Linked DNA regions of Homo sapiens. The protein of the gene in region 1 binds, or shares a complex with, the protein of each later gene. Each region holds a gene or a part of one and is shown in the gene's direction. Other genes may lie near its edges.

Region 1 (7,301 bases):
TTCTGACACTTGTTGAAATTGTACGGAAGACTTTAGTCAAGACCCCTGTAATAAGGGGCATTGCAGTAGGGAGGAGAGCTCAGGTTCACCTCTGGGTGAAAGGAAAAGTGGGGATTTGTAGCCCACAAGCAGAATGAGGGGATCAGTGGGTGGAAAATTCCTAAGAGATGGGGTTGGGGGGACTCTTGCTAAACTGGCCTAACAAGATTCTTTGTGAAGGCAGGCTAAGGGCCTAGCCACCACAGCGCTGTTGTGAAATAAAGTCAGCTGGGAGACGCCATGTAAACCCTACATTGTGAGTAGCAAATGTGAGAGGGTGTTAGGACAATGAGGTGTCTTCCACGTTAAGTGGAATTTACAATGCTGCGTCAGTGCCAGATCTTGAACGACCCCAAATGCACCTGTTTGAATACTTACTTTTCCTCCTTGCCCTAAACACTGAGTTTTATTCTAGCTACTCCCTGGTCACTGATTTAACTCAGCAGCTGTCAGCTGATGTGAGGAGGAAGAGGGAGCTTACAGTGAAGAGAGCACGGATTTAGAAACAGCTTCTGGAGACTCTGCAGACAGAGGGCCCATGTGGAGTGGGGATAGTTGGCAGTGTCCAGGCCACTTAAGCTGGGCCTTGTGCTAAGTTTCTCCTGTAACTGTGACATAGTATTTGTTTGTTTTGGGACCATGTCTTGCTCTGTCACCCAGGCTGCAGTGCAGTGGCACAATCTTGGCTCCCTGCAACGTCTGCCTCCTGGGTTCAAACGATTCTCCTGCCTCAGCCTCCTGAGTAGCTGGGACTGCAGGCATGTGCTATCCTGCCTACTTAATTTTTGTATTTTTAGTAGGGACAGCATTTTGCCATGTTGGTCAGGATGGTCTCAAACTCCTGGCCTCAGGTGATCTGCCTGCCTTGGCCTACCAAAGTGCTGGGATTACAGGCCTGAGCCACTGCACCCAGCCATGACATAGTATTGGAAAGAAAAGATTTGTCTCAATGACAGCTGGTTTTGAAGCAGTGGGGAAAAGAGGATTTATCAGGGTGATTGGCTAATCTTTTGGGGGGAAATTATATTTCTCTTTTATTATAATACTTCAAAATAAACAGACAAAAATATTAAACGTAAGTACAATACCATAAGGAAAACATAGGTGAATATTTATGTGATCTTGAGGAAGAGTTTGTGAGTGTGATGTCAAAGAGAAAACAAGTTTAAGAAGTTTGACTACTGATAGCTTGGTCATTTGCAAAAGAAAGATGTAGGCCGGGTGCGGTGGCTCATGCCTTTGGGTGGCTCATGCCTTTGGGTGGCTCATGCCTTTGGGTGGCTCATGCCTTTGGGTGGCTCATGCCTTTGGGTGGCTCAGCACTTTGGGTGGCTCAGCACTTCGGGAGGCCGAGGCGGGTGGATCACAAGGTCAGGAGATTGAGACCATCCTGGCTAACATGGTGAAACCCTGTCTCTACTAAAAAATACAAAAAAATTAGCCGGGTGTGGTGGTGGGCACCTGTAGTCCCAGCTACTTGGGAGGCTGAGGCAGGAGAATGGCGTGAGCCCAGGAGGCAGAGCTTGCCGTGAGCCGAGATCGTGCCACTGTACTCCAGCCTGGGCGACAGAGCAAGACTCCGTCTCAAAAAAAAAAAATGCCAGCAGCATTTAGGCCAAAGAATACATTCTTAAGGTATGAACAGTGCTTATAAGAGGGAATGCCATGTGACCATTACAAAAACGGTCACAAAAGAAGACAAATGGATGAAACAACTCGCTCCACAAATCAAAGAAGTGTAAATAAAACCAGAAGACTGAAATCACTTATTTAAAAGATTTTTATTAAGAATTTGGACTATTACAATAACAGCCTGATTGAATGTTACATCTAAACTCAAAAGTACTTCTTTTTTTTGTCTCCCAGGCTGGAGTGCAATGGTTCAGTCTCGGCTCACTGCAATCTCTGCCTCCTGGGTTCAAGTGATTCTCCCGCCTCAGCCTCCCCAGTAGCTGGGATTACAGGTGTGCACCACCATGCCTGGCTAATTTTTTTTTTTGTATTTTCAGTAGAGACGGGGTCTCACCATGTTGGCCAGGCTGATCTTGAACTCCTGACTCAGGTGATCCACCCGTCTCAGCCTCCGAAAGTGCTGGGATTACAGGCGTGAGCCACCGTGCCTGGCCAACTCTAAAGTATTTTTAAAGAAATGGCAGGCTGGGCACAGTGGCTCATGCCTGTGATCCCAGCACTTTGCAAGGCTGAGGTGGGAGGACTGCTTGAACCCAGGAGTTTAAGAGCAGCCTGGGCAATGTAGTGAGACCTTGTCTCTACAAATATATATATATATATAAAAATAAAATGAGATGTCATCTCTATAAATACAAAGGAGAGAGAGAGAAAAAAACAGAGAGAGATAGAAAGAAAGAAATTCTGTTTAAAAAAGAAATGCCCACTTTGGGAGGCCAAGGCAGGCGGATCACCTGAGGTCAGGAGTTCGAGACTAGCCTGGCCAACATGGTGAAATGCCATCTCTACTAAAAATATAAAAATTAGCTGGGCGTGGTGGTGCACACCTGTAATCCCAGCTACTTGGGAGGCTGAGACAGGAGAATCGCTTGAACCCAGGAGGCGGAGGTTGTAGTGAGCCGAAATTGTACCATTGCACTCCAGCCTGGGTGACAAGAGTGAAACTCCATCTCAAAGAAAAGACAAAAGAAATGCCATCCTGTAATGTGTGCAATCTAGCGAGTTATTAGACATGAATGCAAAGATAAAAGTTATTCATAGTTAGTGATTTCATATAAATAAGCATTGCTTACGTTTATTTGTTCTCAAAAATTAAGAACCCCAAGTGACAGTTGATTTATCAAATCATCTTCTCCTAGGAAATAGAAACTTCAGCCTAGCTTTTTTTTTTTTTTTAAGACAGAGTCTCACTTTGCCACTCAGGCTGGAGTGCAGTGGCATGATCTCAGCTCCCTGCAACCTCCGCCCCCCGAGTTCAAGTGATTCTCCTGCCTCAGCCTCCCGAGTAGTTGGGGTTACAGGCACCTGCCACTGTGCCAGGCTAATTTTTGTATTTTTAGTAGAGACGGGGTTTCACCATCTTGGCCAGGCTGGTCTTGAACTCCTGACCTCGTGATCCACCCACCTCCACCTCCCAAAGTGCTGGGATTATAGGTGTGAGCCACCGCGCCCAGCCCTGCCTAGCTTTTTTAAAATAATCACAACAACAACAAATTTCAAAGTAAGTGGATCGTTTGCTGCCGCATTTGGAAACTTCCACTGAGCCGTGTTTGGCTGAGGCTGGGTGTGGCAGGAAAGGGTGTTTATGTGAGCACGCTGGTACACCACTCCAGAACTGAACCTGCAAGCTAGGTTGTGGGTATTGGTTTATGATGGCAAATTCGTCACTCTACACTTGTAGAAACAATTGTGTGTCTGCACATATGTGCATCCCTGTATGTGTGTGTGTATGCGTGTGTGCGTGCATATGTATGCCTGTGCATACATATGTCTTGGGGAAAAGAGGATTGGAAAGTGAAGGCATCCATGATTTGAATTTCAGGAGGAAGGGGAAAAGACATGAGATGCTGGCTGGAAACTCGGCAGCTGGCCTAGTAGGAACTCTTCACCCAGGGAATCCTTCAGCCAAGATACTAAGAGGGACAATTGGGGATCTCTTGTTAAAGTTCAGCTTTCCCATGGAGCAAAAAGAATGCTAGGGCGGTGAGACAAAAGACATGCATCTTAATCCTGACTATCATTCATAAAACGCCTTTTGTCCATTCAGAGCGATTTTAGTACTTGGCTCTGTGGGCCAAGGGTAGAAAAGAACAAGAAGGAATTTTTATAAAGTTACGCTTTCAATGAACTGAGCTTTCTATGAAAGAATTCAATCTAATTTCATTGAGCACTTGATTTTTTTTTTTTAAAGCAAGGATTGTTTTAAGTTAGATACACCAAATAAGTAAGTGATTGTACTAAACCGCTCCAGAAAACGTTTTTAAAATTGATGATTTGTTAACTAAGTTCAAACCAGGTGAGGAAGAAATAAAATGGGAAGCTTAGTAAGTTTTTTAATAAGGACTACTTGTCTGGCAAAGGGATATTTCCCATTGAGCTCAATAAATACACAGTAAGCGTTTGCCTACACCACAAGTCATACATTTTTGTAGGAGCCAATCACCAACCCTCACCTCTACCCCTACTCCAGCAAAAGGCCACATGGAGAGGCAAACCATTTGCATGCATGGAAATATTCGGTTATTGCTAACTGGTAAACCCCTCGCTGTACACCCCCAGATTAAAAAAATGTGTAGGTAGCTCATCCAAAGCCATCTCTACTGGATTAGGACTCTAGAATAAAAGAGCAGGCTCATAGAACAAGTGAACTAACTTCAGAGGCTTCCTCTAGGCATCAAAGAAGCTATAATCAAATATTTATTAGCTGTGCCTCTGGCTGGGCTGTCTAAGCAGTGGGGAGAATAAGGTATCTTAAGGCAAGGAATGGATTGCTGATATAAGTGCTGTCTAAGCAGTGGGGAGAATAAGGTATCTTAAGGCAAGGAATGGATTGCTAATGTAAGTGCTGCCTAGAGACAAACAAACATCTGCTCTTTCATTACACAAAGAAATTTCCAAGCACCTCCCTCCCCCTCGCTCCTGGGATGTGTATGCTTGTTTATTTTGCAACTGTATTTAGTCATGGAATTTCCAGAACCACTGGAGTTTAGGGAAGAAGCCCATGGCCAGTGAGTCACATTTTTAATGCACAAAGAGGGTTGTTTGGTGATTTTTGGAGATGATAATTGAGCATGGTCATGACTAGTTTGGGTCACTGCAACAGAAGTTGAAGAAGAGGATACTGCTGTTATCTGCTCTATCTCTCATTGTAGAATTCAGCCTGGTAGTCCACTCCAATTCCCTGCTCCAGCAGAAACCTTTTTTTTTCTTTGAGACGGAGTCCTGCTCTGTCACCAGGTTGGAGTGCAGTGGTGTGATCTTGGCTCACTGCAACCCCCACCTCCCATGTTCAAGCGATTCTCCTGCCTCAGCCTCCCAAGTAGCTGGGACTACAGGCATGCAACCCCATGCCCAGCTAATTTTTGTATTTTTAGTAGAGATGGGATTTCACCACGTTGGCCAGGATGGTCTCGATCTCTTGACCTTCTGATCCGCCCGCCTTGGCCTCCTAAAGTGCTGGGGTTACAGGCGTGAGCCACCACACCTGGCCCAGAAACCTTTCTCATTGGCATGACACATCATTTGTCCAAATGTTAATGCGGAAAAGCCAGGGCCAAGGGCAGTTCATTAGTTTGGCTCTTTTTTTTTTGGAGATTGGGTTTCGGCTGGAGTGCAGTGATGCGATCTCAGCTTACTGTAACCCCTGCTTCCTGGATTCAAGCAATTTTCCTGCCTCAGCCTCCTGAGTAGCTAGGATTATAGGTGCCCACCACCACACCAGGCTAATTTTTGTATTTTTAGTAGAGACAGAGTTTCACCGTGTTGGCCAGGCTGGTCTCAAATTCCTGACCTCAAATTCCTGACCTCAAATGATCCACCCACCTTGGCCTCTCAAAGTGTTGGGATTACAGGCGTGAACCACTGCACCCAGCTAGTTTGGCTCTTGGTGTACTAAGTGTTCTGTTGGTGTCTTGGCATCCCTAAGCATATTACTGACCCTCCCCTGTAGACAGTAATCTCAACTGTAAAGTAAGAGGTAAAACTCCATGTAATCTACGAGGTCTGTGGTCAGAGCCTGTGGTTCTAATTGTCCAAGTGAACAGCAGTCTTAAAATTAAATGGAGAGAGAGTTTGCTTTTAAAAAGATGGAAGTTGGGTGTGGTGGTGAGCACTTGTAGTCCCCGCTACTTTGGAGACTGAGACGGGAGGATCGCTTGAGCCCAGGAGTTTGAGGTTATAGTGAGCTATGATTGTGCCTCTGTACTCTAGCCTCAGCAACAGAGGGAGAGCCTGTCTCTTAAGAAAAATTAATTTGAAAAGGTAGAGAAAAAAATAAAAAAATAAAAAGATGGAGACCCCGCTTTTGCATCGGGTCTGCAAAGGGGTGTGTTTAGAAATCTTTCCTGTTGACTCTAATTTAGAGTTTTTAGGTCCAGATGAATATATTAATTCATCATATGAAATGACACCAGGAAGAATCTGGTTCCTTATTGAAAAGGAAAGATGTACGTCCCCTGTCCAGGCCACCTCGATGGGGCCCCAGGGAGGGGCTGGCTGCTCTACCTTTTAATGTTTTCATTTTCCTTTGCTTTGCAACGGAGATAACCAGGGTGTTGATGTGTCAGAAGTGCTGCAAGGAGAATGGTTTGGTTTCTGGCACCACAGTAAGCCACAAAAAGGACCAAAAATAAAACAAAAATTTCCAAAAGAAATGGAAAAGAAAATAATCCGAATGTAGCCGACAAGTTGGGTCTGCTTATGCAATTTCCACCTTAAGCTCTGACTCAATCTTTCTTCTTCAGCCAGCACAGGCCAGCCAGAAGATGACACTGAGACTACAGGTTTGGAAGGCGGCGTTGCCATGCCAGGTGCCGAAGATGATGTGGTGACTCCAGGAACCAGCGAAGACCGCTATAAGTCTGGCTTGACAACTCTGGTCAGTGTCCTGGGAAGAGAGGAATTTTTTCCGTAGGCATGTGATCACATGCAAGGCTATGATGTATATTAATTTACTTTATATAAAAATATATCTATCTATAAAATCAGCATGAGCCACCATACCAAGGAATAGTTACGTGGCTCAACAAAGAAGAATAAGTCCTCACTTAATGTTGTTGATAGGTTCTTGGAAACTGTGACTTGAAGCAAAATGACTTAGAAAGAACCAACATTATGTGAGGACCTGCTGCATGTCATTTTCCTTAAAGTCGCAGTTTCCAAGAATCTATCAACAACGTTAAGTGAGGAGTTACTGTCTTTCCCAATTTCGTCCACTTAGCTGGTGTGCTGATCACAGGTGGTTGGAGAGTAGAAGCCAGAGCTTCTCAAATTGGTAAAAGGAGCCAGGATTTTACATTTCCAATCTGTTACAGCCCAACTTTCAATACAATGAAAGTTTTCTTGGGTGTTGTGGCAATGTCATTGCTATAAAGGGTTCTAAATATATCTTCTCAGCCGGGCGTGGTGGCTCACACCTGTAATCCCAGCACTTTGGGAGGCTGAGGCAGGTGGATCACCTGAGGTCAGGAGTTCGAGATCAGCCTGACCAAGATGATGAAACCTTGTCTCTATTAAAAATACAAAAATTAGCTGGGCGTGGCTGTGTGCACCTGTGATCCCAGCTGCTCGGGAGG
Region 2 (3,848 bases), on another chromosome or scaffold:
ATATGCATATCCTTAATTTGTATTAGTCTAGGCAGATGCCAGGTTGAAGATTTATAACTAAAAGTAGTCATGCAACTTTTTCAGAAAAAGAAATTGTATAGTTGGATTTCAGGTAGAATTTATCTGTCAGTTCCTATTGGGAAGTATATAATATTGATATATTTTAAAGAAAATATTAGGATATAACAGAAAGGTTCCCGGTGGCTCAAGCTTTAAGAAATAAACAGTCACATGTGACTTTCACACAATATCTCCTGTGGAATGCCATTTTGAGTCTCACATATCTGTCAAGAAGCTCAAGTCATTTTTTATTTACCAAGAATGCATTATCACTTGTTATTCTGGGAGGTCTCAGAATATATAAGCATTTGGCCTTCACATAATTTTGTTACCCATAGATTGATTGATTCACTTATTCCTTCATTAATTCAGCAACTATGTGCTGAAACTATTCCAGAATTTGGACCTATGCAGTTAGTAAGACAGAAAGAAAAATGCTTAACCTCGACAAGAGTATATTCTAGTTAAAGCAACAGCCAAGAAACAAAGCAAATGATATAGTATATAGTTTAGTAGATAGTGATAATTGCTAATTAGAAGAAAGTAAATAGGGAAAGGTAGATGTACGTTATTTATAAATCCTTTTGAGAAAGACATCATAAATGCCTTTATCCAATTAACTACAACAAGTTAATACTTCCATATGTAAGATTTTATAGGCAAGCTGAGCAATAAAACCAAAGCAGGTAGGGCTTTAACTCTAAGGAATATACAGCTCATCAACAATGTATTTCTTTGTATTTCCTTTCTCTGTTTACATTTATTCCTTTGAATCATATTTGGTATTCTATTTGGGAGTATAATCCTCAACTGGTTGAAGATCTAAATACATGTTATAAACACAAAAGAAGATTAGAATATCAGCTATTTTGTGTACAATTTTACCTGTGTCCTATAAGTTTTTTTTAAGTTCTCAGACAAGTCAAATTGGTACAATTTCAAACATCAAATGTAATCCATTAATACTAATATAGACATGTAATCCAACATTTTTTGTCCAACGTCTTATCATGAAGCTTTGTCTATCATACCAAGAGCTGTGGAGGGATTCTGACCATTGTGTTTATTTATGTTTACAATAGGAGTACATCAAAGCCAGGACTCATTTAATTCGTTGGGTCGGATTATCTCGCCAGAAGTCGAATGAGGTCTGGAAGTGGGAGGATGGCTCGGTTATCTCAGAAAATATGTAAGTCACTGGACACTTAGAATAGGAGGGAGTACTGGAAACTCTTATTCTTGAGATTCCCTCTTCTCTCAGTCCAAGTCACTACTATGGGTTATAGAAGCAGCAGCTGGGTCACTTACCTGCTAATTCAAACAAGACAGCGCTGGTCATAAGACAATTCTTTCCCCTCTCTCCCATTACTTTGCTCTTTATCTAAGCCACAATCCACCTTTATCTCTGATATTATTCCCATTCATTTTTACATTCAACCTTACCATGGAACACTGTGTGCATGTATGTGTATGTGTGAGTGTGTGTGTGTGTGTGCGCGCATGCACATGTGTGTGTGTTTTTGTGTTTTGCTTGTTCTGATTATCTTCACATATTTTTAAAACAAAATTTCATATCATTATTTTACAGTTGAAAGTTGTTATCTTGAGAGTCCTTTTGAGTTTTCAATATTGTTTTGCCTATTCCTCTATTCTGGGAGTCTCCAAGAATTCGATACATTGTATTTCACAAGATAATTCCAATGTCCATTAACGAAGCTTTGTCCTTCTACAAACAATCCAGGCAAAGGGACTGATTGCATTGAGTGGAGTTGCTTCCTATATGGCTTTCCAATCTGCAGTCTCAACATCTTTTGTTCATCCTGTATATCAAAACTGCAGTCTCTCTTCAATTAAAATTTAAACTGATAACCAAAACTTATATAATCTGATTATTACTCAAATTATGAATTAAATTTTTAAACAAATATTTATTAAGTATTTACTATAGATAGGATCTTAGGATACTACAACTACAAGCAAGCCTCTTCACAGACCTTGGGCTTTATCTCCTATCTCCTATTGCTTGCTGCCTCATTTACAATATTGCAGGCAACTTAGTGTTCTTTACATTCTTCCAACAAATCAAACTCGTTTTGTTACCTTAAGGCTTTTGTCTTGCTATTTTCTTCTAGAATGCTCTGCCTCCACAACTCCATGACCATCTCTCCACTGAGACTCAAGTCTCTATTTAAACATCACTTCTTCAGTGAACCTAACTCTACCCAAACTAAATTAGCCTCCCTTAAACCCATATCCATACAGTCCACCACTGTTTTGTTTCTTTGTAACTCTTACCACTGTCTCAATTTTTCTTGTCTATTTTTTGTGGGCTTCTTACCGGTATCGCCCCACTTAAATGAAAGTTCCCCAACAAGAAAGACATTAGCTTTCTTGTCTTTCTTTATCAGTGTATCCTCAGCACATAGAACAACTTTGTCACATAGTTCTGCAGGTATTCTCCAAATAAACCAATAAGTATATATTCCTTGTCATCTCATTATAAGCAGTTTAGAAAGAAAGAAATATAACTTAACAGACAATTACAATACAGCCTGCTGTGTTAGATGATTTATCTTGCAACATAAATCCTGATTTCAAAACTACTGAATCAACTCACTTTTCCATGAGCGTATTCCCATCTAGTGCAGCTACTTGTCCTGTAGGGCTCTTCCATCTCCTGTCAGTTCATCTGAGTCCTGACCTTCCATCAATACCGAACTAAAGTCTGATCTTGTAGATAATGCGTTTTCCCATTATTTTGGAGCCATCTCCATCACTTCTTCAGGGCTCCTATTGTACCTACTGTTCCCTTGCTCCTAATTTTATGCTAAATGAAATTGATATTGGGCTTTTTAAATATGCATATCTTGTACTGCCAAGCAGGGTGGAACTTTCTCAACAATGAGAATCGTTTTTTTTTTTGTTTTTTTTTCCTATTTTCCTCAGTCTCTATTTGGTGCATCAAACTACTATACGCAGAGTCTGATTACTGATTGTTTGCTCAGTTTTCAAAGGAATTTATTCTAACTTTCCCTTCACAGGTTTGAGTTTTTGGAAGATGGAAAAGGAAATATGAATTGTGCTTATTTTCATAATGGGAAAATGCACCCTACCTTCTGTGAGAACAAACATTATTTAATGTGTGAGAGGAAGGCTGGCATGACCAAGGTGGACCAACTACCTTAATGCAAAGAGGTGGACAGGATAACACAGATAAGGGCTTTATTGTACAATAAAAGATATGTATGAATGCATCAGTAGCTGAAAATTGCTTATTTCTCCCTTTCTTCTCACTGGAGTTATTTTTAATATTATCTTTCCTATCAGAATTACCTAGTCCCTTCTTTGAATATACAGAAGCCATCACGTGAGTTTATCATTTGCTTCCCAATTGTTCTATTTTCCTTTAATTTTCTTTCTTCTTGTCCTTCATTTCTAATTACCTGAACATGGTATGATTTACTGCATCTTCAGATATACACATATAACATCAAAATCAGGCCAATATAGGTTAGGGCTTAATTAATATAAGTTGTGCAAAATATCTATGTTTGAAATCTGTCCAAAATATCTAAGTTTGAAAGGCGGTGTAAGATAGTAAAAAGAATATTAAACTTAGAATCAGCAAAATAATTTAGATGTCAATTAACTAAATTACAATCATGAACAAGTTTCATAACCTCTTTAACTTCCCTTTTCTCATATTTAAAATAGGAATAATAACAACCATCTTTTATATCTCACAGTTCTACAACCTAAAATAGAACTTTAGAGTGTTAACTGTACCA

The links.
Region 2: the proteins of PDPN (region 1) and CLEC1B are in contact, whole or in part, in a crystal structure (PDB 3WSR), measured with the Homo sapiens proteins. Residues at the interface, in NP_006465.4 of Homo sapiens: Ala46 (codon at 6,539), Glu47 (codon at 6,542), Asp48 (codon at 6,545), Asp49 (codon at 6,548), Val50 (codon at 6,551); in NP_001380271.1 of Homo sapiens: Arg107, Phe116, Arg118, Arg152, Thr153, His154, Leu155, Arg157.

Annotation. Positions count from the first base shown.
Region 1 is NC_000001.11:13,600,703-13,608,003, forward strand, and holds part of PDPN (podoplanin isoform a precursor), read left to right. Parts: intron 1-6,470; coding exon 6,471-6,604; intron 6,605-7,301. UniProt on the Homo sapiens protein: Mediates effects on cell migration and adhesion through its different partners.
Region 2 is NC_000012.12:9,992,541-9,996,388, reverse strand, and holds the end of CLEC1B (C-type lectin domain family 1 member B), read left to right. Parts: intron 1-1,098; exon of another isoform or gene 1,099-1,142; coding exon 1,143-1,249; exon of another isoform or gene 1,250-1,364; coding exon of another isoform or gene 1,365-1,371; intron 1,372-3,101; coding exon 3,102-3,246; 3' UTR 3,247-3,314; downstream 3,315-3,848. UniProt on the Homo sapiens protein: C-type lectin-like receptor that functions as a platelet receptor for the lymphatic endothelial marker, PDPN.